Linked DNA regions of Homo sapiens. Changing the gene in region 1 together with any one later gene gives a genetic interaction. Each region holds a gene or a part of one and is shown on either strand. Other genes may lie near its edges. The genes, in order: BOD1L1 and SEC22B.

Region 1 (3,828 bases):
GGGCTACAGGTCCAGTCTTGATAAGCACCGCCGACTTTGAGGGGCCTATGCCCAGTGCGCCCCCAGAAGCTGAAAGTCCTCTTGCCTCAACCAGCAAGGAGGAGAAGGATGAATGTGCTCTCATTTCCACTAGCATAGCAGAAGAATGTGAGGCTTCTGTTTCCGGTGTAGTTGTTGAAAGTGAAAATGAGCGAGCTGGCACAGTCATGGAAGAAAAAGACGGGAGTGGCATCATCTCTACGAGCTCGGTGGAAGACTGTGAGGGCCCAGTGTCCAGTGCTGTCCCTCAAGAGGAAGGCGACCCCTCAGTCACACCAGCGGAAGAGATGGGTGACACCGCCATGATTTCCACAAGCACCTCTGAAGGGTGTGAAGCAGTCATGATTGGTGCTGTCCTCCAGGATGAAGATCGGCTCACCATCACAAGAGTAGAAGACTTGAGCGATGCTGCCATCATCTCCACCAGCACAGCAGAATGTATGCCAATTTCCGCCAGCATTGACAGACATGAAGAGAATCAGCTGACTGCAGACAACCCAGAAGGGAACGGTGACCTGTCAGCCACAGAAGTGAGCAAGCACAAGGTCCCCATGCCCAGCCTAATTGCTGAGAATAACTGTCGGTGTCCTGGGCCAGTCAGGGGAGGCAAAGAACCGGGTCCCGTGTTGGCAGTGAGCACCGAGGAGGGGCACAACGGGCCATCAGTCCACAAGCCCTCTGCAGGGCAAGGCCATCCAAGTGCTGTTTGTGCGGAAAAAGAAGAGAAGCATGGCAAGGAGTGCCCCGAAATAGGACCATTTGCAGGAAGAGGACAGAAAGAGAGCACTTTACACCTCATAAATGCAGAAGAGAAGAATGTATTGTTGAACTCCCTTCAGAAAGAAGATAAGAGCCCAGAGACAGGGACAGCAGGGGGCAGTAGCACAGCAAGTTATTCAGCAGGAAGGGGCTTAGAGGGGAATGCTAACTCACCTGCCCACCTGAGAGGACCAGAACAGACGTCTGGGCAGACGGCTAAGGATCCCTCTGTCAGCATTCGCTATTTGGCAGCAGTAAACACCGGTGCTATAAAAGCTGATGACATGCCACCTGTTCAAGGGACCGTGGCTGAGCATTCCTTTCTTCCTGCTGAGCAGCAGGGGTCTGAAGACAACTTGAAAACCAGTACCACCAAATGTATTACTGGCCAAGAATCAAAAATTGCTCCTTCCCACACAATGATCCCTCCAGCTACTTACAGTGTAGCTCTGTTGGCTCCTAAATGTGAGCAGGACTTGACTATAAAGAATGATTATAGTGGCAAATGGACTGATCAAGCATCTGCTGAGAAAACAGGAGATGATAACAGCACAAGGAAATCATTCCCTGAGGAAGGAGACATAATGGTTACTGTGTCTTCTGAAGAAAATGTGTGTGACATAGGTGAGAATCTGTACCTAATTGCAAATTTTAATATTTACAAGGATGATTGTACAACAGAGTGCATTTAGGACAGTCTTCCAAAAGATGGTTTTGGTTCCAGAAAGATAAAATATCTATAAATTTTTTTCTCATATCATAATGTTGCAAAATAACTCTCATCAAACTTGAAGGTCAAACTTCTCTAAAAGCTACTTGTGTTTAAAAGTTTAAAGCCTTTGGCCCATTTCTCATGTGTGGGGAGAGAAAAAGCAGGAGGCTGAGGCATGGGAAGTCCACATGTTATTTACATGACTGCTGCAACTTACTAAACCTTTTTGACCTACAGGTTTTTTGTCAATCAAAAAGAAGAATACCCTACCACAACCCAATGAAAGCAATACATTTTTTTTTTACCACCCTCATTTTACAAACGAGGAAATAGGGTCAGAAAATTTAAATAGCATTCATGGTCCTCGGGTGACTTTTAGAGGAAAAATCAGTTTCTGAGCCTCCATTTCTTGTTGTATAAAATGGGGATAATAAGACGGGATGATAATACAAAGGCAAACACGATTCCAACCCTCATCTGATCATAGGTTTGCAGTATTTGTTTGTTCAGTCTGTTAGTTCCTTTGAATCAAAGGAGCATGTTATTTTTAACTGAGCTTATTTTTCAGGTGAAATGAGTTTCTAGTTTAGAATATATTTGAAAGTGAAAAGAAACATTTTTCCCTGCTGACAGATTTTGGACAGTGCTGGTCTTTTAGAAATAGTTAATAACTTTCAAAGATATTATCTCAGTCATGCCTTATACCGTCCAACTTCAGATACTTTATACCAGTCCAGATTGGAGAAAAGTGGACAGTGACACTTTAAAGCATGACAATTGCATAGACTGGGATTAAGCACAGGATGCTGTAGGAACAAAAGGGTCCTCATGGGCTGGACTTGAAGGGACAGAGGAATTCTTTTCCACTCTGGCTATATAAATTGTAGCATCCTGGACTTTTAACTGAAATAGACCTTAGCCATCATCTAACCCAGTCTCAGGAAGCTGAGGCTAATAGATTTAGTCTTGTTCATTATAGAGACTTAGGAGACTTTAAGAAATGCTCCAAGGGTTGAAACAAGTAACTTTACAAGTTTCTGTTGAATTTAGCCTGGAGTAAATTGAATGCTCCAGAAGTTTTTATGACTCAATCATTGCTACAATTACTCATTCCTCCTTTTTTCCTGAAGAAGTGAAAATAGAAGGGTTTCCACAGAAGCTTCTACACAATCTAAAGAAGGATATAAGAGGCAAGACCAGAGTAGAACTGAATCTCTGCACCTGAGAAAATTTTTTCTTTTTGTCTACCTCACAGTTTAACTTTGTGTTCAATTTTTCTGTGTTCAGTGTGAAGCAAGTAAAGTGAATCTGTTAATAAATCACCTTTACTGAGAATAGACCTTAGTGACTCAGAATATTTTTAAGGACAAACTTGATGGAGATCACTGCAGAAAAATACTTGGAAATGAAGATGTCTCCACAGATAATACTTTTGTCATTCTTTCTGGGCAGTTATCTTACTGTGCAAATAAGAATTTCACTCACCCAAAATGAGCAAATAATCCCTGCCTTTCATCCAGATTCTTTTATACAACATATTCCTTTTGATCATTTTCTACTGACAGCAAAATAAACCAGAAAAGGAAGGTGCAACAGCATGTCAGATAACCACATTCCATTACTTTTTGACCCCAGATGTATTTTGCAAGCAAATTCTTAAACTGTACTAAATGGCTTGAATTTTATTAGGCAATGAAGAGTCTCCATTGAATGTTTTGGGAGGATTGAAACTGAAAGCCAACTTGAAAATGGAGGTATGGCTTATAATTCAGCTGTGCTGAACTGTAAGTGATTAAATACTGTTTCATCACATATACACATATATATACTTATGTGGTATATAGGTCCTGTTCTCATTGTACTTATGATATTTAGTGTTGTTATTGCCATATCCTGTGGGGGGAAAGCTAAGAACCTCAGTAATCTTAGTAAATAGTGCTATCATCAGTTCATTTACTCAAGCCAGAAACACAAGAGTCACCCTCAGTTTCTCCGTCATCCCACATTTAATCTATCGCCATTTCTTACAGGTTCCATTTCCAAAATATAACATGAGTCCATCTATTTCTGTTTCTACAGTCATCACCCTAGGCTAAGCCACTACTTCAGTAGCCTCTCCATTAGGCTTAGTTCACTCCAGCCCTCCTCCAGTGTGATTCACACAGTCCTGCAGGTAGTCATTAGAAACATAACTTAGGCCCTGTCATTGCTCTGCTTAAAATTTGTGGTGGCTTCCCATCATGCTTAGAATAAAATCTGCTTTTTTTTTTTTAAGCATGGCTTTGGTGCTTTACACAATTTAGTCTCCATATCCTCTT
Region 2 (3,828 bases), on another chromosome or scaffold:
ATAGATGTCACCTTCTGGCTGTTTCCTCACATGGTGGATGGAGCAAGCTAGCCCTCTGGGGTCTCTTTTATAAAGGTACTAATCACATTCATGAGGGCTCTACCCTCATGACTTAATCACCTCCCAAAGGTCCCACTTCTTAATACCATCACTTTGGGGGGTTAGGATTTCAACATGAATTTTGTGGGGGATACCAGCAAACATTCAGACTATAGCTGGGTAGCTGGCAGAAAGCTCCCCTACCCCACATGTGGATGGAAAAACAATGTCTATTTGCTTCCCATTCTTCAGGCACTTCCTTTCCCTGTTGGATCTAGTAGATTGGAGATGCATGGTTTTCTTCTTTTGAAATGACACTGCTGGTTTTTCCAGTAGATTTGCCCCCTCTTTTTAACAAAAATAATTGTAAAAGCAGTTAGAAATTGTTCAGGAAAATATTACCTGTAATTATAACATGTGAATGCTATTATTTTCATTTTTGTCTGCATATATCCCTCGATATTCAAACTTTTGCTGTCCAAACTTGGGAACCAAATAGATTTCTTCAGTAAAGGGTATCTGACATCCTAATCTTTGTCTCTACCCTTGGTCATTTTTATGTAATTGCAGTCAAAGTGTTCGTAATAATTTGCAGTCACTAGTACACACATTTAGTTTTGTTTAAATGCTAAAAACTGTAACACTTGTGGAAGGTTCTGCTGGATATTCCAACATAAAAATGAAATTCACCAATCTTGTTCCTAGGATATTCCCCTGAGTATAGCACATGCTGTGTAGTTCTGTGCCAATAACTGCAAATGAAATGGGTTAGGAGGAGAGTACTGTCCTAATAGTGGAAAGAACACTGGATTGAAAGTTAAGAGTGCTTAAGTGTATTTGAGGTATATGCTTTTGCTTCTTAGCAAATAACTAATGCGATCATCTTGAAGAAGTAGGGGTTAGGTCTTCCTCTGTACTCTGAAAGTAGGTTGTCTTTCCTCCGTTAAAATGAATCTTACTTACCTGTAAATGAAGGACCTCATTCAGAGTGTCCTCATAATATGATGCTTCTCACTAATTGATACAGCATTTTGTGGAAAATTCTTAAATGAAGATGTCTTCTTTCAGTCTGGCCGGGACCTTCAACAATATCAGAGTCAGGCTAAGCAACTCTTTCGAAAGTTGAATGAACAGTCCCCTACCAGATGTACCTTGGAAGCAGGAGCCATGACTTTTCAGTGAGTGTAATCTTGATTTCTTTATGATCATTTAAGTGAAATACAGTAACAGAATGCCTGATAAAAAATAATAATTTTTAAAAAGTAAAGATTACTTAAAAATGTTGTCTTTTGGGAGGAGCAACTTCTCTGGCTCTAATTCTACAAAATGGACATCTTGTTGGTTTTTTCAGCATGCTTACAGTAATTTAACCTGTTAACATGTGTCTATGCTGTGCCCATCATGCAATAATAGATAACTTCTTGCTTTAGGACTGTCTTGGAGCCAGATATGTGTAGGTTAGTACCCTTGCTCAAACATTTCCTAACAGTGTAACTTTGAACAGCTCACATAACTTCTCTAAGCCTCAGTTTCCTCTATAAAGTAGTGAAAATAAACATAGGAGGTTTGAGAGGATTGTGAGGGAATCTGTGTGTATTACTTAGCATCTTGTCTGACACACATGGGAAGAGTCAATAATTATTAGTTATTATTATTTTGAAAAAAGAAAATTATAAAAGATAAGAGCATCTTAATCAGTGGTTATAAATGATACAGCTGATAGAGGACTCAAAGGAACATTATTGGATTTTAAATTATCTACAAATAATTGGTATTTAATGTTTAATACATGCCAAGTTTGAAGCTGACAAAATAGGAAGGATTAAAAAGGAAAAGAGTACAAGAGCATCAGAGGAAAATAAAAACGGATTAGTTAAATAATCTTTGCCATTTTAGGGACTTAGATAGTAAGATAACTTAGGCCAGGGAGGAAGCTGCTATGTTTACTTTTAAAAAACAAAACAAAAATTCTCTACCTATAAAAGACAAGTAAAAAGTACATCAAAACAAAAATAAAACCCTAGGCAATTGGCTAAGAAAATGTTGGACATTATGTTTTATGATGTATTAATTTTTATAATATCTGAAATATTTTCTAGAACTCTAATTTTCAACACCAAAAATAGTCACTCACTTAATATCTAGTATCCTCATTTTCACCATGGTTTAGAGAACCAAGACCTAGGAAAGTTCTCATGGAATTGAGAAGAGATTTTCTTCTGCCTGATTCCTTTAGGACATTCATAATCTCATATCATCCTTTATTTCCATCCAAGAGCTATTAAGGGTTTATTCTTTGCCAGACCTTATATTGAGTCCTGCATTTAATGTCCATACCTTTTAACACTGTTCTCTTAGTAGAGAGAGAGACATATACTCAAACAAGTATACTATAATATCTTAATTGAAAAGATGTTGTAAATTAGATTTAAATGAAATGTTTTGGGAACAGAGAGAAGGAAGGAACAAATTCCCATTTGTAGGGGGTAAGTTTGAAGAAACGGGACAGAGGAGGGGAGTATATATAAAGAAGTTTCACAGAAAAAATTATGGTAGAATTGAACATATGAAAATGAACAGGATTTCTCCAGGTATTTAAAAGAGCATTAACGGTTAGAAAAAACAATATAAGCAGAAGTCCACAAATATGTAAAGAACCTAGCATGTTGGAGAACAGTCCGCCATTTGGTTTATTAAAATATATGATAGAATGTTGCTTACACTTGTTTTGAAAGGCTGTAAATATAATACCATGGAGTATGATTTTATTTTGTAGGTATTAGGGAACCCTTAGAGTTTGTAAGCAGGGTAATATGGTCATCTGTAGTCTCTGGGAATAAAACTGATGGTATAGAAGATGGTGTAGACTAAAAGCAAAGAGACCAGTTAACTCAGGTGCCCAAGCAAGGAATAAGACAGCTGTATTATTAATATTATTTTAAGGGGCCTGAGAGATCATATAATAGTCTTTATCCTTTATGGAGCCCTAGGATGCCTCAGGAGCCACATAGAAAGGGCAAGGATGGGAGTATATATAATGCTTTGGGCCCCTAAACTCCTCCTTATGTTTTAAATTTTTCCCTTTTATTTTCAGTTGACATGTAATAATTATACATATTTATGGGATACAGAGTGATATTTCAATACATGTATACAATGTGTAATCAAATCAGAGTAATTAGCATATTCATCACCTCAAACATTTATCATTTCTTTGTGTTGTGAACATTCAAAATCTTGTAGCTTTTTGAAAATACGTGGTAAGTTATAGCTAGCCATATTCACCCTACAGTTCTGCAGAACACCAGAACTCATTCTTCCTATCCAGTTGTAATTTTTTATCCATTAACTTGCCTCTGCCCATCCTCCCCTTCTCTCTACCTTTCCCTACTTCTAATACCCACAATTCTACTCTCTACTTCCATGAGCTCAAAAATTTTTTTTGGCTCCTACATATGAATGAGAACATGCCATATTTATCTTTCTGTGCATGACTGATTTTATTTAACTTAATGTCCTCCAGATTTATCCATGTTGCTGCTAATGATAGAAATTCATTCTTTTTTATGGCTGAATAGTATTCCATGGTGTGTGTGTGTGTGTGTGTGTGTGTGTGTGTGTAAAAAACACTTTTAAAATCCATTATTCTCTTGATGGACATTTCTCTTGATTATCTATCCATAGATATTATGAATGGTGCTGCCGTAAACATGGGGGTACAGATAAGTTTTTAACATAATGAGTTTTTTTCCTTTGGAGAAATACCCAGCAGTGGGATTGCTAGATTGT

The links.
Region 2: changes in BOD1L1 (region 1) and SEC22B together harm fitness more than expected from each alone (negative genetic interaction), as found in Homo sapiens cells (one large-scale study listed by BioGRID).

Annotation. Positions count from the first base shown.
Region 1 is NC_000004.12:13,596,540-13,600,367, reverse strand, and holds part of BOD1L1 (biorientation of chromosomes in cell division protein 1-like 1), read left to right. Parts: coding exon 1-1,422; intron 1,423-3,199; coding exon 3,200-3,264; intron 3,265-3,828. UniProt on the Homo sapiens protein: Component of the fork protection machinery required to protect stalled/damaged replication forks from uncontrolled DNA2-dependent resection.
Region 2 is NC_000001.11:120,166,229-120,170,056, reverse strand, and holds part of SEC22B (vesicle-trafficking protein SEC22b), read left to right. Parts: intron 1-1,107; coding exon 1,108-1,217; intron 1,218-3,828. UniProt on the Homo sapiens protein: SNARE involved in targeting and fusion of ER-derived transport vesicles with the Golgi complex as well as Golgi-derived retrograde transport vesicles with the ER.